4 linked regions of the Homo sapiens genome follow. The protein of the gene in region 3 interacts with the protein of the main gene of each other region in a pairwise test. Each region holds a gene or a part of one and is shown on either strand. Other genes may lie near its edges. The genes, in order: RBFOX1, CAMK1D, CFAP418 and SMARCAD1.

Region 1 (7,028 bases), on a different chromosome or scaffold from region 3:
GGTGCCTGTAGTCCCAGCTACTCGGGAGACTGAGGCAGGAGAATGGCGTGAACCTGGGAGGTGGAGCTTGCAGTGAGCCGAGATCGCGCCACCGCACTCCAGCCTGGGCAACAGAGTGAGACCCCATCTCAAAAAAACAAAAACAAAAACAAAAACAAAACGTCAAAACTAGCCTCCAAATGAATGAGGTGGCAAGTAGCAAAGTTAGTCAGTGTTTTCTTTTATCACAGGAAATGTATCATGCTTCAAAGCCATAAACTCCTTCACAAATACTTGCTTTCCTGAGGTCTTGGGACAGGACGAAGAGGCAGAATTGCCTTACACTCAAAAAATGTTCCAGACGACAGGATTGGGGTTCCCAAGCTTCTAAAGAATTCTGCAGAAAAAGGTTCCCAAATGCATGTTCCATACAGGTTTTGTGGTATGCATGATTACTTTAGGTGGCACACAAATGAACATTATTTAATTTTATGATAAATATTTTCATTTAGAGTTATATTTGATTAATGATCAAAACACCAGTTTTCATTTACAGTGATGATAAAATGTTTCTGTTTACATGCCTGTTTCTAATCCATTTCATCATTTGTACGCAATAAAATTTACTCTTTATGGCGTATAAAGTCATGTAACCGTCACCATTAAGATACAGGACAGTTCCCTTATTCATCAAAATTCTCTCACCCTGCCTCTTTCTAGCCCCTGCCCTTTGGTCCAGCAATAAAAATGAAGAAACCAGGGACAAACACCGCAACCTGGATGAATCTCAAATGTATTAGGCTAAGGTAAAGAAGCGAGGTTCAGAGCTCTGAGGTATGAATGAGGAGTGGCTGCAAAGGGGCACAAGATTTGTATTTAGGCTGATGGAAATGTTCCGAAATTAGATGCATCCGGCAATCATCGCACAACTCCGTAAATATGCTAAAAATCAGTGAACTGTACACCTAAAAATATACTAATTTTAAGGTATGTAAATTATAATTCCACAAAGACTTTATTTTTGTTTATTTAGAGACAGAGTTTCACTCTGTGACCTAGGCTGGAGTTCAGTGGAGCAATCTTAGCTCACTGCAGCCTCAAACTCCTGGCCCCAAGCCATCCTCCCACCTCAGTCTCCCAAGTAGCTGGGACTACAGGCATGCACCATGACACTCAGCTAAATTTTAAATTTCTTGTAGAGATGAGGTCTCACTTTGTTGCCCAGGCTATTCTCGAACTCCTGTCTTCAAACGACTCTCCCATCTCGGCCTCCCAAAGTGCTGGGATCACAGGCATGAGCCACCACACCCAGCCTCCGTAAGACTTGAAGAAAAATTATCTTACATCAAATTTTTTTTTTCCAAAAAAATGAGATTTCATTGGGATGACATTCTAGAAAGGCAAAACTATAGGAATAGAAAATTGATAAATGTGCCCCTTTACAAATAAATGAAATTAATTAATAATCCGTTGATTTAAATGAACGCTAAGAATGAATGCATGGAAATGAGGTAAACTTCAGGAAGCTGGTATGATGAGGGTGGGCTTAGGGACTGATCTGTTTCCCAGAGTCCCTGGGTAGATGGGGGTGCACCCCCGCTGCCATTACCAGGGCTGGGGGCGCCTCCCCATAACCTCCCACCCGTAGCAAACACGTCCACTTACTGTGGCGGTGCCAGAGACGGTCTGAGCGCTCGTGTCCGCCGGGCTCTGCTCGGAGTGCGTCTGGGCGGGAGGGTACAGGTTTAATGTGTGCTCGGGAACCGTGGTCTGGCCTGTGTACTCTGGCGCGGGGTGGGGATGAGGGGCCGTGTATTCCGCGGGGATACCGTTCTGCGGGGGAGCAAACTGGGCCGAAGCGTAAGGCTGAGCCATTGTGTCAGGGGCAGCGGCTGCTTCCTGATTACCCTGAAAAATCAAAAAGGTGCAGAGAGGGAGAGAACGTCATGAGGAGCCACCATGCAGAAACCTTCCTCCCAGATCCCAGGACGATCGTGCCCCGCGTACTTTCTAGGGGTCACCATGGTGCCACCAGCCTGAGATGGACCAATCTCAGGTCATCTTCACCAGACCCTATAAGGAAACAGTAACCATCACTTCTCCCCATTTTACAGATGCAGAAACCGAGGCTTGGAAAGATAAAGATAAAGTCGCTTTTTCCAAGCCACCCAGCCTAATATTCAAAGACATGAGGGTCTGTGGCTTTACTAGATTGATTTTTTTTTTTTTTTGGCAGATCCTTTTTATTTCATTCCCATTTTGGAAGCTGTGAGCATTTAGTTGTCTGCAGTGACAGCAGAACCTTGATTTGATACTTAAAGTGCCAAGAGAGACTAAATTGAACGTGTGTGTTCTTGAGAGGAGAGACAATTTATGTAAGCATTTGAATTTAATCAAAGTTTTATGTGACTTGGCTCACATAATGGGAATAGGGAGTATCCTTTTAATGGTCCCAGTGTCTGTGTGGTTGTGTGTTATGTTGTGTGTGTGTGTGTGTGTGTGTCTGTGTGTGTGTATGCGTGTATGATGTCCCCAGTGCCAAAATGAAGCAGCTGATACAAATTCAGGGCCTAATTTGGACAAAGACTGTCCTCTCTGACATCCCCATTTTAAGCATTTCTGAAAAATATTGGATTTAACTCTCAGTCTCATTAGTCAATGCCTCTCCCTCCCTGCCTTATTTTTTTATGAGCACAGAGTATTATATAACAATTCATTCTTCAGATCTAGGCAAAACAGGCAGTGTGACAATTACAGCCAACTCAGAAGAATTTTAAAAACACACACAACAAAAACCTGAATACAAATGCTTCCATTTCAGGAAACAGCTCTCTCTCTTTACCTCCTCCTCCACAGTTCTACCACAACACACACACACACACACACACACACACACACACACACACACACACACACGGCATAAGAAATTGTAACCCAAAGGTCTAAACTTTCCATGGTCTCAGGAGATGGGATCACACAGTCAGAAAGACAGAGCGAGGAAAAAAACTTAGCAATTAGGCACACCAAATAGCTGCCTCTCCTATTGTCTGTGGTCAATTAGATGTGACTTTGGCCCTCATATAATGATACTAGGGCAAAAATATCAGAATTTCTCCTTATCTCTTCAGTACTTGCCACCAACATCCGAAATCCTCTTTCTCTAAAGCAATTTGAGTGCAGCAAAAACATGATGACAGAAAGAAGAGAGGAAAAAAAAAAAGTTTGTTCTCAGAGCAGCACACGGAGCTGGTGCATTTGTTTAGAAGGGACCTTAATTAGAATGTTAAAGATGACACTTGGAAGAGAACTAAGCTTAGGATAAGTTTAAACATTTTACAAGTAAATCATTCCCATCAGGCTCTTCCCTCCTCCAGACAAATTTCGCCAAATGTCTGTGCCACTGGAAACAAAAGGGCACGAGCATTTCTTTCTCTTTCTAACATTTTCCCATAGCACTGGGGCCATGGAGGGTGTGCCTATGTTGAGGCTGAGTTGCTATCCATGAGCAGTTAACCTTGTCCATCCTTGGGAAGCCAAAGAAGACATGCAGTGATACTGCTGGTCTGTCTCCACTCCTGTTTCTTCAACAAAGCCCCAGTTTCCTTTTGGGGGACAGTCCCACTTTCAGCCTGTATGGTGCAGATACAGTTGAACCCAGCTCCCAGTCGCTACGAGATGAGCCATAGGACATCAGCCTGGCCAATCAGATGGTCCCACTGAGATAGTCCCATGGATTTGCGTTCATGCACATCTATCTAGTGAGTCCGTTAGTGCGTTAAGCCCTAGTCACACCACTGAGTCCCAGTCACCCTGGGATTTTGCTGTAGTTTTGGGGAAGAAGTTCTCTTTCCACGGTGATGGGCAGCTGTAAAAACATCATAAGCCTGGAGCTGCCAAGAACTGACACTTAGGGTGGGCATGTTGCCTCATGCCTGTAATTCCAGCACTTTGGGAGGCCAAGGTGGGTGGATCACTTGAGGTCAGGAGTTCGAGACCAGACTGGGCAACATGGTGAAACCCTGCCTCTACTAAAAATACAAAAATTAGCCGGGCATGGTGGCACATGCCTGTAATCTTAGCTACTCCGGAGACTGAGGCAGGAGAACCACTTGAATGTGGGAGGTGGAAGTTGCAGTGAGCTGAGAGTGCACCACTGCACTCCAGCCTGGGCCACAGAGCAAGATTCCGTCTCAACAACAACAACAACAACAACAACAACGAACTGCCACTTGAAGGGGACCTCCCTACACGTGAGGCCAACCTAGAGGAAAATGAAGAGAAGAAACTGAGGAACAGAGAGGTTTCTACTGAGTCCCAGTGACGTCATTTGAAGTGTTGAATCCAGCTTTACCCGCAGTCAGCACCATCCCTGTTTGTTGTAGTTACACAAGTCAGTAAATGTCCCATATTTTAACAGCTTTACTAAGATACCATTAACATAAAAATTATACATGTAAGGTGTATAACTTGATGTTTTGACATATGTATACATTGTGAAGTGACCACATTCCAGGTAATTAGCATATCCATCACTTCTACATGATCTCCATTTGTGTGTGTGTGTGTGTGTGTGTGTATGTGTGTGTGGAGAGATTTAATTTAAGATCTATCCTCTTAGCACACTTCCAGTATATAATACAGTATTTTTAACTCTTGTTTCCATGCTGTACTTAAATCTCCAGAATGTATCTGTCTTGCAAAACTGACACTTTGTACCCTTTGTCTCATTTTTTAAGCTACTTTTTCTGTTACTTACAACCAAAAGGGTCTTGACTAATTAAAAAAAAAAAAAAACTTCTGCTGTTTTATAACTAAACTAGCATCTTTTCTTTTTCTGGGCTGTTCAAGGAACATATCCTTCTGTACAGAAATTTCATAGCGATGCCACTTCTCTATGGGTGATGAAAAGCCCCAGAAATGTTGGGATCTTGGGAATCATCTGATGAGAAATTCACTGTGCCAGAGGCAGCTTCTGCTCAAAGATCTGTTTCTGCCTCCCCAACCTTCTACCTGGCCCATCTCTGAAGTGAAAGGTAGACTTGTGTAAACTCTTACAGGGAAGCACAGAATAACCACATAAGCAGTGGTACAGACAATGATCATATGAAGACAAAGGTTTCCCTCCTCCACCTCCAGCAGAAGATACTTTCACCAGGAACATATATAACCCTGGGGCTTTTCATCAGTGCAGAGCAAGCTCAGGAAAAGTGGCCCATTCCTACTAGTTCTTGCAAAAGAGCTAAGGCTCCTTGTAGACTTCGAGCTATCTCTGTATTGAAGAGAGAAGGGTCATGCCTTCCAGAAGCTTATGGTCAGTTAAGGGAGAAGAGCTCCATCCTCTCAACCCCATCAAGTCTTCACATTTACTGCCCCTCAGCTTGGAAAGCCTCACCTACCCCCTTGCCCAACTAGTCCTTACTCTTCCTTCAGTCCGCATCAAGAGTCCCTCCTCCAGCAGGCTTTCCTTGATGCTGAAACCTGGTCAGTTGCCCATCCCCTCTGCTCCACTGCAGCTGGTGGCCACAGCTCACACAGCACCAAGCACTGCCACAGCCTGATTATTTGTCTGTGAGCTCCCTGAAAACAGGACACTGTGCCACATTCCCTGTCCCATCTCCATGGTCCAACAGCATACTAGCTGCAAAGTGGACATTTATAAATGTTTGCCAAGTGAATATGTGCTGGAAAAATGACCTCTGGGCTCTGTAAAGCCTAGTCTGGCAGCAGGAGATAGGGTAGGGGGATGAAGAGAGGACCTAGCAAACGACTCATGAGGCAAACCTGGCCCAAATTTTGTTTTTGTAAATAAAGTTTTATTGGAACACACCCATGCTCATTTGTTTACTGTCTGTAGCCGCTTTTGTACTACAAAGGCAGAGTTGGATAGCTGTGACAGAGACTGCCCAGCCCACCAAGACTGAATGATCTATCATCTGGTCCTTTGTGGAAAATGTTTTCTAATAGCTGTGGCAGAATGTCATTAGATATGGGATCACCAGTTAAGAAGCCATTATTGCATAAGTAGTTTGGGCAGGAAATAAAGCAGGCAGTGAAGTAGAAAGAGAGAGAAAGGGCCTGTATACTCTCCAAACCAAAGAGGGGTGATAGCTAGACTTGGAGACTGGCAATATTGAAAATGGTGCAAAAACAGTGGGTCAGAATCTTTTGGGGAATTTACTTTCCATCCGCAGATCTTTGACCTGTAAACTCACAGGCACACAGGCTTTAAATCTGCATAAGTGGGCTTATGAGCAGAAGGTTCATGATGGCCTCAGACTTCCATGAAAAGCAGCCCCTTCTCCTCACTGGTCCTCAGAAGAAAACCTAATAGGTGGCAGGCACTGTGCTGGGCGCCTCATACCGGTAGTTCTTACAGAGGTGTGATTGCTCCCCACAGGACATTAGGCAATGACTGGAGACAGTTTTGTCACAAATGAGGGAGGATGTGCTACTGCCATCTAGTGGGTGGAGGCCAGGAATGCTGCTAAACATCTTACAGAGTATACGACTACCTTGAACCACAAAAGACTGTCCCGCCCCAAATGTTAATAGTGCCAAGGTCCAGAATCCCTACTTTTCATGCAATGCATCTCTAATCTCAATTTACCTTGTCATCAAAGATGCTGCAGACCAAAGCTGGGAAATAATTATTCGAGGCCACAGTCACAGGTAGTTGTTAGGGAAGCCAAGAGTTAAACCAAGGCATTTCTCATCTAGCAAGAGAATCACCTGGTGGGGAGTTCACTTCATTCATTCATTCATTCATTCATTATTTTTATTTTTATTTTTTTGACACAGAGTTTTGCTCCTGTTACCCAAGCTGGAGTGCAATGGTAGGCTCTCGGCTCACTGCAACCTCCGCCTCCGAGGTTCAAGTGATTCTCCTGCCTCAGCCTCCTGAGTAGCTAGGATTACAGGCACCCGCCATGATGACTGGCTAATTTTTTGTATTTTTAGTAGAGACGGCGTTTTACTGTTGGCCAGGCTGGTCCCGAACTGCTGGCCTCAAGTGATCCATCTGCCTTGTCCTCCCAAAGTGCTGGGATTAC
Region 2 (7,028 bases), on a different chromosome or scaffold from region 3:
CTCATGACAGAGGAAATGAGCATCTGAAGGTGATTAATTGTCTTTATTGGAGGAAAACAGGAAGTCATCAATCTCATTATCATTATGATAGAAATCTTGATATGTATACATGATTGTCAAGGCAGAGAATCATTTGCTACATAGACCCATGAACAATTTTGCAGTGCCGCAAACCTATGTGGGTTAAACTTCTTGCAGAGTTTATTACATGCATGGAATAAATTCACAGTTTCCCTTCTTTTGGACAAACATGTTTTTATGGGAAAATTGAACCAATTGCAAGCCTGGTAATAGTAGATGCGGGGACATTCCTGGTTTTGATGTTGTAATTTTTTGGGAAGCATGCTCACTGTTGGGGGAGCTGAAAGAAGGGAGATTACATTATGTGTAGTGACAAAAGCCAATTGAGAGATTGTTCCAATGTTTATTCTGGACAGAGGGTACCTTTGAGGTCTTCTCACCTGAACGTGGGACTAAGATAAATGTTCTCTGAAACATGGCGCCCCATCTTTCGAAGCAAAGACTCTGCTGCATGCAATGTCGCTGCATTTCTGCCACCATTCGGACAGCATTTCATGTCCCTCTGATAGGGCCAAGTGCCCCGGGAAGGAGAGTGGCAGGTGTCAGGGCTGAGAGACAAACATCCGAGCTGATGTTCTTGTTCCTTTTTAGCTCTCTCGCAGCCTGGCTGCCAACCACGTCCCAGGGCCCCTGTGCCCTGAAGTGCAGGGCTTCCAGGAGAGCCTGGGAATCTGAATCTGTCTAGATTAAGATTTTCCTCCGAGAAGCAATTTAACTAGAGTTTGGGGTTTCTGAGCCCCTGCTGAAGTCTTATCTCTAAGAGTAAAACCAACTCCTCCTCATTTTCTTTTTTCCTGTCCATAAGAAAATAAAATCACCTTTAAAATAACATGGCAAATCATCAGAAGACATAATAATCGAATGAGAAGTTCCCCGGAGACAAAAAGGTTAAAAAACGGATATGGCGAATGCAGAAGCGGTGTTATAGTACAAAGGGTGAATGCAACCGTTTGTCCCTTTATACAGACACCGAGAAGCCATTCCACAGTTTGCTTTGTCCACAAAACCAGACTCGGCAGCCGCATGCTGAGCGTTTGGCTTCCAAATGCACAGCCTTTTTGGGTTTGCAAAAGCGGAGCTCCCAGAGCCACAAACTGAGCTGCTCCTGCTGGAGGTGGCGGGGAAGTCTGGGAAGGGCTGACTCCTTCCCACTGACTCTGGAGGCATCGGGAGGTGGCCGGGCCTCGGCCAGCATGCAGGACTGACTTCACAGTGGGGCTGGGGGCCCAGAGCTGCAGACCATGATGCCCCGGGACCACCGAACAGGTGCCAGGTGAGTGGGGCGTGGGCCCTTATCTTCCTCAGACCGCCTGCCTGCTCCCCAGAGTTGAGGTTGTCAAGCTAACTCATCTGCACACTCATTTTCTTGGAGTCTTCAGGAAAGAAACCCTCCTTTTAGGAGTCTGTTTGAGCTTTTCTATCTCCACATTTTCAATTCTGAACATCGAAAGACTGGAATATCTTTTGCAAATGTCAGGCACACCTGCAGCCCCAACCGAGGACCAGGTGCCCCTCAAAAGGGTGGTGGATCACATACAGGTATATACATCTTTTTTTTTTTTTTTTTTTTTTAACAAACTGAACAGTGTTTGGTCTGGAATGTGTTTAAGGAAAAGGCAAAGTTCGCAGAGTGTGGGTAGACAGAATAGGGAAGAAGTACAGTTTCAGAAGAACATGCAAAGGTTTCGTGCACTGGCTGAATTCAAGGACCTTCAATTAATTTGCCAGAAGTGATTGTGCAAACCTGGGAAAGAGGACATCTTACTTCTGTTTATGAAAAACGGGAGGAGCTTCCCTTTGCCCGCACTTGCCTTCCTTTCTCATATCCAAAGGAATCCCAGTCGTGTGCTTGTTAAATTCTGCGAAGCAGCGAGGGCTCTGGCTGAAGCTGCGGCAGTGGCCCTACTTCCACCTTCAGCCCTAGAGCAATGGTTCCAGCGTGGCCTCCCCAACGCGAAGACTCAATTCTGGCCAAGGTTCTGGGGGAGAGGGAGAGGTGAGGGGCCACGATGCTTTCAAAAATAAAGTCTACCTGCACTGGGATATCATCTTTCCTTTCTGTTTAAAAATGCTCATAAAATAGCAAGCCCCAGTGGGTTAATCAGGTTAAGCTGTCATTCCACAGGGGAGAGGATCAATCCACTTTCCAAAGGGGATCACCTGGGCTCCCCCCATTCCCCCCACCCCGTGTGCCTGGTGTTCTCGGCTTCTGTCCCTCCCACCTACGATTCATCCAGGGCATGATGGACACTAGGGTAGACAGATGAGTGGGATGAGTACGGGGTAGGTAAACCGAGTCCGGGGCTCCCTAGGCCAGATTCCTTTCATCCTACTACAGATATTTCCTATGAGCCCAGCCTTGGCCAGCATGGCCATCTTTTTTGAGACGGAGTCTTGCTCTGTCACCCAGGCTGGAGTGCAGTGGCACGATCTCGGCTCACTGCAACCTCTGCCTCCCGGGTTCAAGCGATTCTCCTGCCTCAGCCTCCCGAGTAGCTGGGATTACAGGCACGCACCACCATGCCCAGCTAATTTTTGTATTTTTAGTAGAAACAGGGTTTCACCATGTTGGCCAGAATGGTCTTGATCTCTTGACCTTGTGATCTGCCCGCCTCGCTCTCCCAAAGCGCTGGGATTACAGGCGTGAGCCACTGCGCCCTGTCCACTGTCCATCTTCTTTTGCTCGCTCTATCCTGACTGCCGGGGCCCTGGACACTACACAAAGAGCTAGCTGGAGAGTGAGACTCTCTCAAAGGCCAGCGGTGGCTCAGAGACTCTACACCGTTCTCAAGGTCAGATGCTAGAAGTGACCAGAATTGTGGCCATGGTCAAGAACGCAAAGCCACTCTTCCTTTTTTTAACTTTGTATGGCACGCTTTGCCATAGCTCTTTTCTTTTAAAAGAAGACCTGAAGGGGTAGAATGTTTTCTAGTCTCCGACAGAGGCAGGGGTAGGAGGAACTGGTGAAAATCAGCCACTGTGCACTGCCAGAGCCGTGCATGGTCCTGGGGGTTGCCATTTCTCTAACACAGCAAACCCCGTCTCTCCTCAAGGGCTTTGGTGGTCATTGAGCTTCTCCTAGGTGTGCCCTGCGCCTCTGCACCACTTCATTCTGAGGCTCCGGACCCGTGTGCCCGCTGGGAAGCAGAGCCGTAGAGAGGCAGACAGCTGCCCAGACTCCAGACTCCAAGGCCACCTCTGTGAAAAGGGCCAAGCTGCTGGCCTGTTGGTGCCCGCTCACTGTTTGTCTCAATGAATAGAAACTCCTCCTATTGCCTCACGTATGAGATGAAGATCCGGGAAGCCAGGGAGCCCAGACAGGCAGCTGAGGGAAAGGCCACTCCAGGCCACTACTTCAACATTGAATACTCCAAGTGAGGAAAAGAGAATCCACTTGCTCTGAGAAGGGATAGTGACCAAATGGGGGACTTGGGCTCAGGAAGGAAGCCTGTGATGGGGTCTACGCGTCCACCCTTAGCCTCAGCCCAGCACCCTGGGTGCATGTAGAAATGCTCAGCCTCTACAGGTGGACTCTGACCTTGGTGCGGGTCCTAGGACTCTGAGACCCCATTTGTCAGACCTTCACGAAAGGCACATTCTAGGTTCTCTTCCTGTTTTATAAGAAAACAAATCATACCAAGCGCAGTGCAAAGACAACCTCTTTTTAACATGAGAGCTCTCTCAAAAGCACAAGAGCGCCTCTCTTTCTCTGAAGCAATAGGAAATTAACCCAAGCCTGGTGGGATCAGGACAGTACAGGCTTCCTGATGTCATGCTCAACAGTTGACTCTTGGGCTGAAACCAGTCACTGTCTCCTCGCACGATGTTGTTGAGACCCGGCGTGTGACAGGCCAAGCATGGCCAAGAACTGACCCGAACAGCGAGGGGGGCACCTGCACCACGGCTCACCTTTCAGAGGTTCTGCACTTTTTGGGTGAGGGATACTTTCAAACTAAGTGCATATAACATGCACCACATGTATCTGCTCCTGAAAATACTTCAATCACCAGTAATGGAACTCAGCTTCAAATGCTGCTTTCTGAATGCAAATGGTTGTATATAGCACACAGCACAAAGGGCTATTCATCACTATTCATGTACTCATCCTAGGTACCAGATTCGGGTGCATTTTCAGCGCTTGCAGCCTTCTATTACTTTGTCATGCACTGTATGAACTCGAATGTTTCCAAGACACTTCTTAGTAAGCAACCGCCTAGTTCTCCAATACTGCTTATAATATTCATTCATTGCATGGCCAACTCAGGTGACACTTGCTTCTTAACTGGGTCTAATGTCATCTTATAGACCTTTCCAGGGTTTTTAGATTTTGCAGAGTGACAGCTTGATTTTTCACCCTGTGAGCATGCGTGGCAGATGCCATGCAGAATTCCTGCCAAGCAGTGGAGTGCCTGTGAAGTGTGCGGGGACAGGGTAGACCAGCTGCCTGTCTTCCCAACTGCTCTTCTCTGTGCCTGCACTGCCATTCTCAGGGAGCAGGATGGAGCTGCTGTGCCTAATAACATTGTGTGTGTGTGTGTGTGTGTGTGTGTGTGTGTGTGTGTTTATTGAGAGGGTGGGGGGGCATCACTCAACATTCAGCCTGTACATACTCAAAGGTGTAGAAGTGACAAAGATGACTCAACCAACAGGACTTCCCATGACTGGCCAGCCAGAGGAAGAGGGCATGAGGACACAGCCAGCAGCGTTACTGGGTCGTGATGACGCAGACCTGCCGGGACACCCCCGTGGGCTCGAGGCATTGGATGGGCCTGAGAGCTGAAGCAGGGGCACTTGCAGGAATGGCACTTGAAGCCACCTGCCTGGCTTTACAGGGCAGCCTCCTGGAAGCCTCCATGAAACGCAGCTTTCCCTGGGCCACACACTGCCTGGCTCCACAAAGGCGAACAACACAGCCTGCTTTGCCCCGGATATTCCTGGTTTTGGCATTAAATGTCCACAGCCTGAGAAATCCTTCAGTCTCGGGCAAATGGGACGTTTGGTGACCCTACCACCATGTATCTTTGATTTTAGACTCCCCTGACCAATGGGAGGGCTGCAAGCACTGGCTGGGCCTGGCGGAGGTGGTCTTTGGTCATCTCTGTGGTGGCTGAAGTCCCATTAGCCTGGCAGGGCCCCCTCTCCTTACCACCAGAAATGGATCCTTTCCCAAGGCTGCTTCCCTCCCTTCCTTCCCTTGGAAAACATTCATGTGAGAAGAGGGTAAAAATGTGGAGAAAGAACTTTGTGTTGGAGGCCACGTGAAGTGTAAGATTAGAAATGCATTTTTTTAAAAACCACAGAGAAAGAGATGAATTTTAACACTGCATAGCTGAGCTTTCATCTGTTAGCTCTCGTGAGAAATGAGGGTTGTGTGTGGGCCCACTTTCAGCAACATGGCAGCTGGTTCCTTTTGCAAGGGAGGGTCCTGCATCTCTGCAGTGTGGGCATCTCACTCACAGCAAGTCTGGCCTGTGAAGCTGAGCCCTGCGTCTCGGGGGAGCAGGCTTATTTCTGGTTGCTGATGGCAAGAGGCCTCTAGGGTCTCTGGTGGGTGTGGGTTCTGCTGGATGGGTTGCCAGCAAAGGCTCTGTGCAGATTCTCTACCAAAGTCCCCCGCAGAGAAGAGAGCCTCGCAGAACTGAGGGGCCCCTCCTCCTGGGGAAGGGGAGAGAAACAGAAGGAGTAGAGGTGAAGGGCACTCTTAGCCTTGGAGACAGATTCATGATCCTCTTGTTAGAATTTTTTTTTTTTTTTTTGAGACAGAGTCTTGCTCTGTCACCCAGGCTGGAGTGCAGTGGCACGATCTCAGCTCACTGCAACCTCCGTCTCCCGGGTTCAAGCAATTCTCCTGCCTCAGCCTCCCGAGTAGCCGGGACTACAGGTGTGTGCCACCACGCCCGGCTAATTTTTTGTATTTTTAGTAGACGTGGGGTTTCACCATGTTGGCCAGGATGGCCTTGATCTCCTGACCTTGTGATCCGCCCGACTTGGCCTCCCAACGTGCTGGGATTACAGGCATGAGTCATTGCACCCGGCTGATCCTCTTATTAGAATTTTAAAAAATACCTTTAAATTCTCCTTTGAGGAAAAACAAATCTCTTAAAGGTTAACATAAAACTACTATTAAAGAGGAAAAGATATAGGTCATGTAACTTAGAGATACAAAGGACATACTTCTTAAAAGGAAAAACAAACCCTAATGCACAATATTTACCAATATTTAAATAATCCAGTTGAAACCTTTTTTTTTTTGTCATTAATGAAAAAACACACCATAGACGGTTACCTACACTGAGAAGAGTGGAAACGATGGTGTTAGGGGAGAGGAATAAGAAGGTCCGTTCAGTTAGAGCTTTGCAAGATTCGTATATACAGCACCAGATCCTATGAAATCAGCGCCCCTCGAGTCAGTACAGTTTGTGAGAAATGAACACTTCAGAATTGCAGTAGAAAATATGGCCATAAAAAAACTTCGGTCTTCCAGTCCTATGCAGGAAGGGGCACCATGCAAGGTGGGGTCTCGCTGGAGTGGCTCGCGGCTCTGGCGACCCTGGGGCTCCCCTTCCCCAGCCCCGACCCCGGGCCCCACCTCCAGGGCCAGTCACTTGCTTCCAGAGTGCACTGCCGTCACAGTGGTGGGCCTGGGTCTCCGCTCGGCTCCAACTCCTGAGACCCCCGACGAAGAAGAAATGAAACTACAGAGCGTGGAAGGTGCCAGACCTGCAGGGAACAGCAGAAGTGGGCTTCAGAGTTTCAGAGGTAAATTCTCACCCTGCTTCCCACTGCCAGGTGTCAGAGGGGCTGGGTTTATGGTGGGGGGCGGGGGGGCCCAATTTTTTTTTTTTCTTGAGATGGAGTTTCACTCTTTTCACCAGGCTGGAGTGCAGTGGCACGATCTCGGGTCACTGCAACCTCTGCCTGCCAGGTTCAAGCGATTCTCGTGCTTC
Region 3 (7,028 bases):
ATCGTGTGATTATCTGTTTTTCAGGTATGTTGCTAAAGAACTTCACTCTGAAAAAAGTACCAAGTAGTTTATATTTCCTATTTTGATATATTCTCTCTGGGTGGATTCAGCCAGATCTTGTGGGCTTCACCTCTTCAGTATAGTCATGTGCTGCGTTATGATGCTTCAGTCAACGATGGACTGCATATATATATATACATGGTGGTTCCATAAGATTATGACGGAGTTGAAAAATTCCTATCACCTAGTGACATCATAGCCTTTGTAATATTATACTGCAATGCATTGCACATGTTTGTGGTGATGCTGGTATAAACAGTAACATGCTGTAGAGGTTTGTAGCCTTGGAACAGTAGCCTATACCATATAGCCTAGGTGTGTGGTAGGCTATACCATCTAGGTTTGTATAAATTCACTCTTTGATATTCCCACAATGATGGAATTGCCTAACAAAGCATAAGCAATGCATGACTGTGTTTCTGTCATCCATCTCCTTCTCTCCATCTGCCTGCTGTCAGCCTAGATAAGGACATGTTACTTCTGGACAAGAATACAGAAGTAACCTCCTCACTGGTTTTTCTGGCTACAATCTCTTCTCTCAGACCATCCTTCCCTTGTTCAGAATTAAAGCATAGCTCAGAGTATACCGTCCTCCTGCTCAACACCCTTCCACTTACAGAATAATGTCCAAATTCCTTAGCATGGCATTCATGACCCTCCATAATCCAGCTCCCATCCATCCATCATCCAGCTTTGTCTTCCCACAATGTATATTTCACCTTTGCAAGATTTTAGCTACATCAGAGTACTCAAGGCTCCCATTCCCTCTGACTTTGTACAACCTCTTTACCTCTTGGGATGCCTTCCCACCATTTTATCTACCTAAACCCTACCTGTCCTTCAGAGTATAATTCATCACATGTCTTCCATGATTCTTTCACCACTCTCTCAACTGGAAGAAAACTCTTCCCTTCCTGTGTATTCACGGTGCTTTGGACCTATTATATACTGTAATATAAAACTGAAGCTCTTAGGTTGGTGTATGACTACCTCCCTCCTTGTGGCTGAGATAATGTCTTGCTCATATTTATATAATTTGTACATTCTTATACACTTACAGAATACCTACTATCTTTAAGGTGTTACAAGTTATAAAAATATATTTGAACTTTACATTGACATTTTCAAATAAAAATTTAAAGCTAAAAATTAATACAGTGTAATATTGCAGCACTTTTCAATAGCATAAAGAAAAGGGTAAGAGACTTTCCCCTACGCCTTTTTTGGCAGCCATTCTTGGGTAAATCTATGAGTATACCCTAATTTAATAGTTTTTAAACTTTTTCACATCAAGAACCACTTTGCAAATCTTATGAAAGCTTTGAATGCCCCTCATACACATACAATTCAAATATAAAAATACATGGAAAAATTATAACTTGAAAAATTTTACAGTTTCCAACCCAAATAAAGCCTAATGTACTCCCAAAATCTGAGGTTAGGAACCCATACTTTTAGGCTTAGCCCACTTTTTACCCCATAAGTGGAAAAGTTGGCTTTTAATTACAGGTTGACTTTCCCTTTTCTGACTTTTCTAAACCCTCTGCTATTTACTGTCTACTAGTTAATCTAATAAGTGGTTAATAATCCCCATATGTCACCAAGATGAAGCATGAATTTTTATAAAACTATCATAGGATAATAAAATGCATGTAACATCAAGGCAGTGGTGAACACAGGCATAAAGTAAACTATGGATAACCTAGTCGGTACTTGAGGAACTTGCAGCATCTCAGAGTTATCAAGAACACCAGTTGGTTTACCCTAGATCTGTGGCAGCCTGGTTTAAAAAATATATGTACTTTTAGATAAAACAGTGACAACTAGAGGATTTATTATACTATTAAAAATAAACAAGTAGTCATTATTTAAATCAGTAGAAAATACTGTCTCAGTTCTCAAGACACTTAGGAATATGTTTGGGAGATAAGAGAATGGAACAGCTAAAGAATAAGGCGGTCTCCACCATTAGGATATAAATCACTGATAGATTTATTTTGTACAATATATTGGTGTTTACCAGTAGACATTATTCAGCACCTAGTCTATGACACTCTTAGATACTGGGCTCATAAGATGAGAGGAACCCAGGGGAAGGGAGACATGGGTGGGGACAAGCATGTGAGCAGCAAGGTCATAGAGACAATAGGGTCAAGAGCACTGATGGGAGGTGAGCCTTGGATAGGAAAAGGAAGACCTCTGTGACTGAGAGGAAGCCAGCAAGGTACTGATGTGTTCAGGGTGAGCTTGCCAGGAAATTGAAGGCTTTCATACCTGGCGACCTGGTTTTGAGAATGAAGATGTGATCTGCTGAAAATAAGGGAGTGGAGGAGGATGTGGAATAATCACTGAGGAAACCAGAAGTGGACAGTGACCAAAGACAAGTTAAATGTTACACAGTGGAATGCTGTGCAGTTGTTTTATTGTCCTATTTTACAGATGAGAGAAATAAATGTATCCTATCTTTGAGAAGTTTTAGAACTTTTTTTTTTTTTCTGAGCCAATCTTGCAAACCCTGTTACCCAGGCTAGAGTGCAGGACTGCAGTTTCAGCTCACTGCAACCTCCACTTCCCAGATTGAAAGGATCCTTCGGCCTCAGCCTCTCGAGCAGCTAGGAATACAGGTGCGCACTACCACATCCAGCTAATTTTGTAGAGATGGGGTCTCACCATGTTGCCCATGCTGGTCTCGAACTCCTGAGCTCAAGTGGTCCACCCACCTTGGCTCCCCAAAGTGCAGGGATTACAGGCATGACCCACCACACCCAGACAAGTTTTAGAACATTGTAAAAGAAGTGTCAGCTATACTTACTGACCACCTTGCCACAACAGCTGAAGAAAATGCTTTTATTTTTCTATTAAATCGTGTTTTCTTTAAGAATGGAATGATTTTTCCCTAAGCTTTTAAGATACGTGCATTTTAAAAACCATTTCAAATGTCATAATTAGATCCCTGCCTATTCATGATTCCTAATCCTAAAATCGCTAAGGATTCAGTCAAGTATCAAATGTTAAGTTTTCAAAATATTTTGCAGATCAAATAAAGGACATTTTTCCTCAACAACTTAGTTTTGGCGGGGTTTTTTTCTTTCTGTTAAAATTTAGATTATTCATTTCTTCCCTTAGCTAAGTCGTTTAGCTAGTCAGTCTGTTTCCTGAAGTCAGACAGTTGGCTTGGAAAATCTGTCAGGTTTTGTGAGGTTCTAACCTTCTAAATTGTGCCTGAATTTCGTACAGTTTAATACTGAATATGGTGCCCATTGACCACCAGAGGGCACTTTGTAGCCTGCCTTCTGTTGCAGTGATATCCACAAGCAATGGTTAGGTACCGTATCTCTTTTTCTGGTATTCATACTGTATTTCGTCCTTTCACTTTGTATTTTTTCATCTTTTTTAAAAATTTTTTCTACTTTTCTTTGCCATGGAATGTTTATATGAACTCATTACATGGATTATCATGAAATCATAATTGATGTTTTTATTAATTAAACTTCTGTAGTCTTTTTTATAATAGTATGAAATCCAGTGTTTATCATTTTTACGATGGCCCTACTTGTTGATTTAATTATTTCAACATTATTAATATTTATTTCAGGATAGACATTTTTGTTGCTGATAGTATGAATAAACAGATCATTGAAGCTAATGAAAATTTTCTATAGTTAATTCATCAGAAACCTATGATCTTTATGCCTCTAATGTTCTCTCAACTTGCCATATTACAGGCTTTTAAAATATGGCATAGGTGAGTATCTGAGGTAGGAAATGAACCACCATCCTTTCCACCCTATTTTCATATTATTTCATCTCTGATAGGGCGTTTGTAATTCTTCAGCCTTTAGGTTATTGTGTTCTTCAACATTCAATAAACTGGCCTAGAGGATTGCCATAAAAAGTACAGATTATCAAAGAAATACCATCAGAAAGAGAACACTGAAGCATATCTTCTAGTGTTAGTGTGAGGGGATCTAGGTTGTTTAGTGTTCAGATACGGGGAAGATAAGAAAATAGGCTGGGCACCATGGTTCATGCCTGCAATCTCAGCACTTTGGGAGGCTGAGGTGGATGGATCACTTGAGCCCAGGAGTTTGAGATCAACCTGGACAACATACTGAGACCTCATCTCTACAAAAAAAAATTTTTTAAGCCGGGCATAGTGGCACATGCCTGTGGTCTCAGCTACTTGGAAGGCTGAGGGGAAGCCTGGGAGGTCAAGGCTGCAGTGAGCCATGATTGTGCCACCGCAATCCAGCCTGAGTAACAATGAGACTCCTAAAAACAAAAAAAGAAAAGAAAAGAAAGCAATGACCTTTTTTTTTTTTTTTAATCATTAAGCACTGAACAAAGCCACTATGCTAAAACTTTCCTGTTTTACTAATAGGAACAACATGCCAGAATTTCACAAATTAAAAGCAAAGTTGATAAAGAAGAAAGGAACACGGGCATATGCCTGCCAGTGTAGCTGGAGAACTATTGAAGAAGTGACTGACCTTCAGACAGATCATCAGCTTCGCTGGGTTTGTGGTAAACATTAAGAATGCAGACTGCACATTCGGACAGATGCATCCATGAGAGTGGTCTCCATGAATCATCATCATGTTTAGACAATAGTCCCTAGCAATACCATTCCCTGTGGGAAAAGGCAGTGAATTTTATTGATACAACTACATACATTTTTGAAGACCAAATGGACTAAGGAAGATCATGTATTATAACACTTTGGAATTATTCCTGATACATGGATGTTTCACTTAGTAACAGGCATCTACATTCTTTACTAATCTGTCTTCTGTTTAATAGAGGTTTGATTATGGAGTTCCATACAAATATCTAGTTTTTCATTAGCAACTGCAATATTGATTGCTAATACGTTTAGCAAATCATTCCCCAACTTGTAGCAGTTAAAGTGGATAAAGCCGGCCAGGGCAAAGAGATCATTTAGGGGTGTCTACAACACTTCTTCCAGTCAGATCTTTTGTTGCCAAAGATCATAATTTGGACATGGCAGAAACCAGGTGATCAGTGGCTGACTGAAGGGTGTTCAGAAGTAGTTACAGGTATTTTGCAAAAACACTGCCTCATAGCTGATCTTACCTCATCAACTCAAAGCAATGTTATGCACAATATTAAATACATGTTACCAGTTTTAGCTTATTTTTCCCTCTTTTGTTCATTTAACTATCAAAAGTTATTTTCTATTTTGATTACCCAATAATATATAAAAAGAGTTTGATGCACCCAAAATCACAAAAATCCTAATACATACAGGTTATTGTTGGATTTTCCAAGTACTTTCTATCCTTTAATGCCTAAAACTCCATCAAGGGAAGTAAACAGCAAGTAATATAATTTTTCAGGCAGCCTGTGGACTTCTCTGGTAGGATCAGGTTGACATATCGTTTATTAGGTGAGTAAGTGAAAAGACAAGTAAAGCATAACTGAACCAACAGGTAACCTGTTGGGCTCCTTCCTGACATCACTGAGATCTGAGGAGCCCTACAATAGCAGCACATTCAGGAAATCAGGTCCCTCAAAATTTCTAGCTCCCAACCCCATTGAGAGATTTTGGGAGCTTTCCAATCTGCCACAAACTCCCTGCTACATATGTACTATATAGTTCAAATGTGTGATACAGAGCACCCTGAAAGGGAATAATTGAAACAAAGTTATAATCTTCTTAGTCTTATGCTAAATTTATTCCAGCCACCCTACTGAAGGGAGGAAGATCTGATCATTAGAATCCTTTTCCTAGCCATGACACATTTACATACTTGTAAAATTTATTGTAGTAAGTCTAGCATTGCAACAGAATAGATCTTATAATGGCCAATCCTCACACTTTTGTATTAAGGATATTATGACAGACTAAGCATGGTAGCTCACGCCTGTAATCCCAGCACTTTGGGAGGCTGAGGCAGGCAGATCAGCTGAGGTCAGGAGTTCAAGACCAGCCTGGCCAACATGATAAAACACCATCTCTACTAAAAATACAAAAATTAGCTGGGCGCGGTGGTGCATGCCTGTAATCCCAACTACTCGGGAGGCCGAGGCAGGAAAATTTATTGAACCTGGGAGGCAGAGGTTGTAGTGAGCCAAGGTCGCGCCACTGCGCTCCAGCCTGGACAACACAGTGAGACTCTGTCTCAAAAAAAAAAAAAAGACATTATGACAGATTTTATCTTTTAATAAAAATGTATTATATCCCTAAAGTTATATCTATATGTAATTGAGTCAGAAACCTAGGGGGATGTCGATTGAAGTCGACTGCTGGAAAAAAATAGCAGAGCAACAAGATCCACACATTTAGAACCTCATAGAATTTGACACATTATTCATAATGGTGCAATTCTTTCTTTTTTATTCCAGTAAGCAAATTTACTAAATCACTAATTTGAAAAAAAAAATTTTTTTTTTGAGATGGAGTGTCACTCTGTTGCCGGGCTGGAGTGCAGTGGCACGATCTCTGCTCACTGCAACCTCCGCCTCGCAGCTTCAAGTGATTGTCCTGCCTCAGCCTCCCCAGTAGCTGGGATTACAGGCACACACCACCACGCCCAGCTAATTTTTGTATTTTTAATAGAGACAGGGTTTCACCATGTTGGCCAGAATGATGTCGATCTCCTGAACTCGTGATCCGCCCGCCTCAGCCTCCCAAAGTAGCCTACATTGCCTCTACTTTGAAGGGACAAAGTTGTCCTGGTTTTTTTTTCCCTTTTATTATTTCATTATAACTATCCTAAAACTTACATACATTGCCTATGTTTGGCATTCCATAACATAATAATTATAATAATCCCCCAATGTCAGAAATGTATGTGTGAGTTCCCATGTTTATTGGCAATTTATAAGCTTTTTAATATTGTACTATTTTAAACTAAAATGTAGAAAGAATATTATGTTTATATACAGTCAGATAAATTATTAACTGTTGTAATTTAAGCTGAAAATGAAACTATTTTAGTATCAGT
Region 4 (7,028 bases), on a different chromosome or scaffold from region 3:
TAGCCATCCTCCATCACTTCTTCACCACTACTATAGTCCTCATCTAGTGAACTACCGACATCAGAACCTGAATCATATTCAGAGTCTTCAACAACTCTCTTTGGATTAAAAACATTTTTTTTACGTTTCTTGTTAAAGCCATTTTGTGCTTTCATTGAAAATTTCTGTTTTAGTTTTGTTTTAGTTGCATTTTTAGGGTAATTTTGACTTCTTGAAGAAACTTCTTTTCCATTTGGAACCTCACTTTGTGATACATATTGCATATCTGTATATAAAAGACAAAAACAGTAACTAAATTAGAAATACATAAATATAAAGATAGACTTCAAATAAAAACTTAAAACATTTACCTATTCCTATTGAATACAGAAGAATTCAACGACAATTTATTGTTAAATTTGATACACTTTAAAAATACTTAAGTAGAATTTGAAGTTAAACAATTGTTTCAAAAGCAGGTGATAACTTGTTTTTAAAATGAATTAAATATAAATCTCTGTTTTCTAACAAAGGTCCTGAGAACACAAATGGCAGCTGCGTATCTGTATGATGTCTCAGATATTCCTAGCAGCCCCACTCAACTATGCCAACACTGAAGAATATAGCAGAATGATGCTTACACTACTATAAAGCTTACTAATAAAAAGTGTGTATGTTTCAACTATCCATAATTTTCCAATACTATCTTCAATATTCTAAGTTGCATCGTTACTTAAAAAATTATTCAAATAGGCTGGGCATGGTGGCTCACGCCTGTAATCCCAGCACTTTGGGAGGCCGACGCGGGCAGATCACAAGGTCAGGAGTTCGAGACCAGCCTGACCAACATGGTGAAACCCTGTCTCTACTAAAAATATAAAAATTAGCCAGGCATGGTGGTGCATGCCTGTAATCCCAGCTACTCAGAAGGCTGAGGCAGGAGAATCGCTTGAACCTGGGAGGTGGAGGTTGCAGTTAGCCGAGACTGTGCCACTGCACTCCAGCCTGGGCGACAGAGCAAGACTCCGTCTCAAAAAAAATAAAAAATAAAAAAAATTATTCAAATACAGTATTATCAAAAAGCCCCACTACTTTATCACTGATTATCAGTTTACAGAATTCTAAGATGCCTGTGAATGAAGGTAACACCATTATTTTATGTACCAGTGAGAAAACATGCACCAATCTATAATACAATACTTTATTCAGAAATTTTTACTTACTCAGAAAGCTATTAGACTTACACAGATTATCATACCTTTATTTTTGTGCATTTATAAAAAATAAGCAAAATGAATTGGCTAAAGTATTCCTCAAATGTTTTCACATTCATAACATGGCTCTTCTGACTCATTTTTCAAACTCATATTTGGTGGCTTTCTTTTTGCCACAGAATATCATTTTCTGTGCCATCAACAGTATTGGTAGTATAGCCTTTTAAAACAATTTATTAAAAACAAACAAACAAAAAAACCCAAACCAAAACACCAAAAGCTACCATGCTGGGTTTGCAATTATGAAGAGCTAGTCTACTTGATTCTTCCTTAGGTATGTTACTAAACATGTATGACTCAACTCTTCCTTACCACCTCTCCTCTATCATTTGGTTCCTAGAATTAAGAGTGTTCCAAAATGTGTTCATGCCTATGATACCCTTAAGTTTTTGATGCTAGTGCTTTTGATATCTGTGCAAGTATAGGCTAAGACATCTACATTACAGTAATGACATGATATCACCAATCACAAGATCCATCCTGACAGTTGTTAAAAAGGTTATTTTACACTCAATAAAACATGGCAATTTAAAAGTAGCCTTAACTATTAAGAAAGACTGAACAAATAGAAAAAGATATTTATTGTTTTGTTTTACACTATGATAAAGAACAGGCAGGTCAAAACATTTAAAAACTGGTTGTTAAAGAATGTTTTTACATCATTACTTTCAACATCTTTTGCAATCCCACCCTCTGATTAACAGCTAATAGCTTTTCTTATATACCATTTTCTTATATACTAAAATACAGACTATAATGAGAAGTATGTATTTTCTATGACCCAGAATAATTACCTTGGTCTTCTGCAAACACTTTTAGAGATTCTAAAGCTTCTGTGTACATCCATTCATGTTCCTTGAGTACTTCTCTAAGTTCCTAGAAATAAGTCATTTATCTTTTTGTTAAAAATCTCAAATTAGCAACTTGCAGAAAACGTCTATGCTCTTTTAAAAATAAGTTAATCACCTGAAAACAGAGAATTCACATCTGATTATTTTGCACTTGTTTTTACACTGCTTTACAAATGCTTTCTGTGTAATTTCACCTCCACAAATACACAATAGTCTTCAAAGGAAAGAAAACTTGACATTTTTTTGCATTTCTAATGCTCACTATGAAGTACTGTGAACACTAGAGGATCAAGAAATGTTTTCTCAATTAAAAATGAAATTTCAATATGCAGCTAGGCTTTTACAAACTGCTAACTTCAAAACGTAGTTTCAACAAAGGTAAAGAACCAATATTGCAACAAGATTTTGCATTCAGCTCATCAGAATTTAGTAGATGTACTATCTGAACATATATACTCAAATAAATCAGTGCAAGTGTAAATGTACTCTAAATGCTAAACAAATATGTGCTTCTATATATGATCATGGGATTAAACAGAGGGCCTTTTAGCAACAGGATGCGTGGCATGAGTCTTTTTTTTTAATGACTCTGAAAACATTCTCACTATCTGGGAAGTAGTAGAAAGCTTATAAAATATTAAGACACTGAAATGGAATACTTTTTAAATTCTTGTAAGAAATTTCAAGAATGAGAACATGAAAAAAACTAAGCAGTTACTTGATGGGGGCAGGGTTACAGATGACTTTCTAGATGACTTACATGTTATAAATGAGTTCACAATTTTTATTACGGTTATTTTTTAATGACTTAGGGATACAGTATAGATACTATAGTAAACAAGGTAAATAAACAACATAAATAAACAGTATGAAAATACTTTATAACATTGATAAAAGGAGAACATTTAATTAGAAGAATACAAAACTCACCCTAAGCTTTTATGTGGTTGAACTCTTAACACTATTTTATAATAAAAACACTTAGTACACACTGATTAAATTTTCATACACGACTACTCACCTGTTTATCAAAATTGGGAAATTCCTTTTGCAATTTCAGTACAATACTTTCCTGCTTTTCCCAATTACTGCTAGATTCTGCAGACTCATTTGATTCCTCTCCCTAATGGGGAGAAAAAAAAAAGAAAACAATTTAAGAGATATCAATAACAATGGTCTTAAGGCAATTATCATTGTATTTTGACTTGATCTGAAAATTATCATCATCAGTCAGAAGAATCCAAACTGTTTCTTTTTGTTTCTGTGAACATTGACATATTTATGTCTTTAAGGATGAAAAATATTGCTGACTTAAGATCACTGAAAGACCCTGATTGCATATCCGGTAACTCAAACTTTATTCTCAGTGCTTAAAATGAGATAAATCTCCTAAAAAACTAGAATGATCCTCAAATTAACTCAATATAATTCAAGTATACTGATGCCTTCTCCAAGACAACGGTAAATTTTAAAAGGATACAAATATCTCATCTATGTTCACTATTATATATCCACCTATAAATTTCAAATTCTGAGAAGAGTTTACTTTTACTTCACTCTTGATTCACAGAATGGCTTAAATATTAATTGTTCAGTCACAACATAAAACTGAAACAATGATAAAAGGAATTTAAGTGGAACTAAATAATGTATAAACCGAACAGATTAATTAATATGAGAATTGTGGCTATACATAGTCTCACTTTTCCTTCTTCTCTGTCACTTAACTTCACTTGAAGAAACTGGTTAAAGTCCACATTTAAGCAAAAAGAAAAGACTCCTTGTGTTCATGCATAGGAAAAATTTTAGTCAATCAAAAAGCATTTTTCTACTCTGCTTAGAACTGCACCACATGCTATACACACAAGATGGAGAAAAATACAATCTTCTTCTTCAACCTCCTTTATTATCCAACAACTGAATTGCTATTTTTCTCTTTCAGTACCTTAGATAGAAATAACTAAATTCTGATACCTCCTCTGCACAATGGAGTAAAATAAAATTTCATAAAACAGAGACCAATAAAATGCTATGGATATCTGGACTAAAGAAGAAAATTGCATGTGTTTCATAATACTAAGTGGTCTACTTGGGCTCAAATGCAGAGAATGTTAATAGGTTACAAGGATGAAGAATTAAACCAGAGCTAACATGGAATAAAGCCTAAGGTTAGTCTTTTTTAAGAAGCAACAGGATTTTGAGCAGGGGAATAATAAGACATACTGGTGAAACCCATCTGGAGAAACCATTTCAAAATCTTCAAAATTCATACTGCCACCTTTACAGCCCAGGCACACTGAAATTCCAAGAACAGTATTTTAAAGCTCACAGATGGACAACAACCAGCTGAGGAGGGAACAGATCCAAGTATCTAACTCTAGACCACTGCTTTTTCACTACATAAGTGAAAACTAAACTTCAGTTGTTCATTTGTTAATATATCAAATGTGCGTCATGGACAAATTGTGGTAAACACATAAAATGGAATATCACTAAGTCATAAAAAAGAATGAAGTACTGATACACACCACAACATGAATGAACATTGTAGTATATCTGAAAGCATTATGCTATGTAAGAGGCTAATAAAAAAGAACAAAATCATGTTCTTCGCAGCAACACAGATGTAGCTGGAAACCATTTCCTAAGCAAGCTAATGTGGAATCAGAAAAATCAAATACCACATTTCCCACTTATAAATGGGAGCTAAACATTGGGTACACGTGTTCATAAAAATGAGAACAACAGACACTGGGGAACACAAGAAGGCGGAGGGAGGATGTGGGGGAAGAGTTAAGGAAAACTACCTATGGAGTACTATCCTTACTATCTGGGTGACAGATTCATTCATACTTCAAACTTCAGCATCACGCAATATACGTTTGTAACAAACTTGCACATGTACCCCAATTCTAACATAAAGTTGAAAAAAGAAAAAACAAATAAAACACATTTTTCTGAAATTAAAAAATAAGAGGCTAGACATAAAAGGTTACATATTATATAATTCCACCTAAATGAAATGTTCAGAATAGGTAAATCCAGAGACTGAAGGCAGATTGGCGGTTGCCAGGGGTTAGGGGGAGGAGGGAATGGGGAGAAACTGCTTAATGGGTATAGCATGCTATTACGAGGTGATGACAGCGTTTGGAACTAGACAGGAATGATGGTATACAACACTGTGAATGTACTAAATAGCATTAAATAGTTCACTCTAAAATGGTTAATTTTATGCTATGTGAATTTCACCTCAATAAAAAAATACATAAAATATCTGGAAAACAGTAAACAGCTCTTCGGAATCAAATATTTAGTAGATGGTGTGCCTATCATGTGTTGTTTGCTCTTGGGTCCCACACTTATGCCAGCTCTGCTTATCCCTGGTGACTGAATATACTCATGTGGTCCAGGAGGTTACACAGACACTTTACAAAAGCTAGCTGATAAAATTTGGGACTGTATCTGTCTCAGCGGGCCCAAGGGATATGATTCGACCCAGTGCTTATTTTTCCATCTCCAGAATCATAGTTGGAACAGACATATTTGGCACTGGCAGAAATCCCATACTATATCAGTTCCCTGACCCATGATGTATGGGCTACTATTATAGGAAACACCAAATCCAAGTCCCTAGAATTGTCCCTCTCAATCAAAACAATAAGCAATTACTACAGTCCTAAAGGAACTGCAGATATTGACACCACCATCCCATCCCAATGTAAGATGCCTCCTTGACCTATACAAAAAGTAGATGAGTCTTGCAAGTATTTAAGAGTATCATAAACAATCAAACTCCAGCTGCAGCTGCTTTACAGGATGTGGTATTTTTGCTGGAGCAAATCAATATGGCTATGCAGTTATCAATCAAGTACTTGCTTTTTCCCCTTTCCCAATTAGATCAAACAGAAACAATCCGTTTTTATCTTGGCAGGTTTAATGATATACCTTCAGTCTTCAGAGTTAGAGTAACTTTCCTGGCTCTCTCAAATAATACAGTACTCATGGACTTAGATGGTTTTGCACAGTCTAGAGAGTATCACTTGATCCACTATACTGACATCATGTTGACTGGACTTGATACAGGTAGTGGGTATTTTCAATGGTACTGGTCAGATACGTACATGCCACATATCAGGGTGAAGGAATAACCATCCTCACTCTGAGGCCCACCACTTTCGTGGGAGTGTAGTCTGGAGCATGTTGCAAACTCCACTCTTAAGAAAAAAGAAAGGCCGCACCTATCTGCCTCTTTAGACTGGACATTGGGAGCTCACTGCACACTGGAGGCAAGATATACTTCATTAGGGTGTGTACTGCTTGATTCATTTTATAAAATACCTCTTAAGATTGTCAGTTATGGCTGGGCACGCTGGCTCACGCTTGTAATCCCAGCACTCTGGGAGGCTGAGGCGGGTGGATCACGAGGTCAGGAGTTTGAGACCAGCCTGGCCAACACAGTGAAACACCGTTTCTACTAAAAATACAAAAAATTAGCCAGGCGTGGTGGCAGGCACCTGTAATCCCAGCTACTCGGGAGGCTGAGGTGGGAGAATTGCTTGAACCCGGGAGGCGGAGGTTGCGGTGAGCCAGGATCATGCCATTGCACTCCAGCCCAGACAACAGTGCGAGACTCCATCTCAAAAGAAAAAAAAAAAAAAAAGAATGTCAGTTATGAATGGGGCCCAGGTTAAGAGACGGCTCTGTACCAGGTCCAGAGTGCAATACAAGGTACTCCGCCACTTGGGTTTCGTGACCAGCAGATGCAATGATTCTCCAAGAATCTGTTGCAGGTAAGGATGTTGTATGAAGTCTTTGGCAAGCCCCAGTGGGAAAATCGTTTTAGAGAGTTTTAAAGAAAGGTCATCATGTCCTCTTCTACTGACCACAGTCAGTTTTGCTGTGACACATATATTTCCAAAAATTA

Evidence for each region.
Region 1: the proteins of CFAP418 (region 3) and RBFOX1 interact in a two-hybrid assay, tested with the Homo sapiens proteins (one study listed by IntAct).
Region 2: the proteins of CFAP418 (region 3) and CAMK1D interact in a two-hybrid assay, tested with the Homo sapiens proteins (one study listed by IntAct).
Region 4: the proteins of CFAP418 (region 3) and SMARCAD1 interact in a two-hybrid assay, tested with the Homo sapiens proteins (one study listed by IntAct).

Annotation. Positions count from the first base shown.
Region 1 is NC_000016.10:7,513,006-7,520,033, reverse strand, and holds part of RBFOX1 (RNA binding protein fox-1 homolog 1), read right to left. Parts: intron 1,888-7,028; coding exon 1,645-1,887; intron 1-1,644. UniProt on the Homo sapiens protein: RNA-binding protein that regulates alternative splicing events by binding to 5'-UGCAUGU-3' elements. Regulates alternative splicing of tissue-specific exons and of differentially spliced exons during erythropoiesis.
Region 2 is NC_000010.11:12,828,542-12,835,569, reverse strand, and holds the end of CAMK1D (calcium/calmodulin-dependent protein kinase type 1D), read right to left. Parts: intron 6,802-7,028; coding exon 6,683-6,801; 3' UTR 25-6,682; downstream 1-24. UniProt on the Homo sapiens protein: Calcium/calmodulin-dependent protein kinase that operates in the calcium-triggered CaMKK-CaMK1 signaling cascade and, upon calcium influx, activates CREB-dependent gene transcription, regulates calcium-mediated granulocyte function and respiratory burst and promotes basal dendritic growth of hippocampal neurons.
Region 3 is NC_000008.11:95,245,184-95,252,211, reverse strand, and holds part of CFAP418 (cilia- and flagella-associated protein 418), read left to right. Parts: coding exon 1-24; intron 25-4,441; coding exon 4,442-4,595; 3' UTR 4,596-7,028. UniProt on the Homo sapiens protein: May be involved in photoreceptor outer segment disk morphogenesis.
Region 4 is NC_000004.12:94,245,853-94,252,880, reverse strand, and holds part of SMARCAD1 (SWI/SNF-related matrix-associated actin-dependent regulator of chromatin subfamily A containing DEAD/H box 1), read right to left. Parts: exon of another isoform or gene 4,328-7,028; intron 3,228-4,327; coding exon 3,126-3,227; intron 2,220-3,125; exon of another isoform or gene 2,130-2,219; coding exon 2,048-2,129; intron 266-2,047; coding exon 1-265. UniProt on the Homo sapiens protein: DNA helicase that possesses intrinsic ATP-dependent nucleosome-remodeling activity and is both required for DNA repair and heterochromatin organization.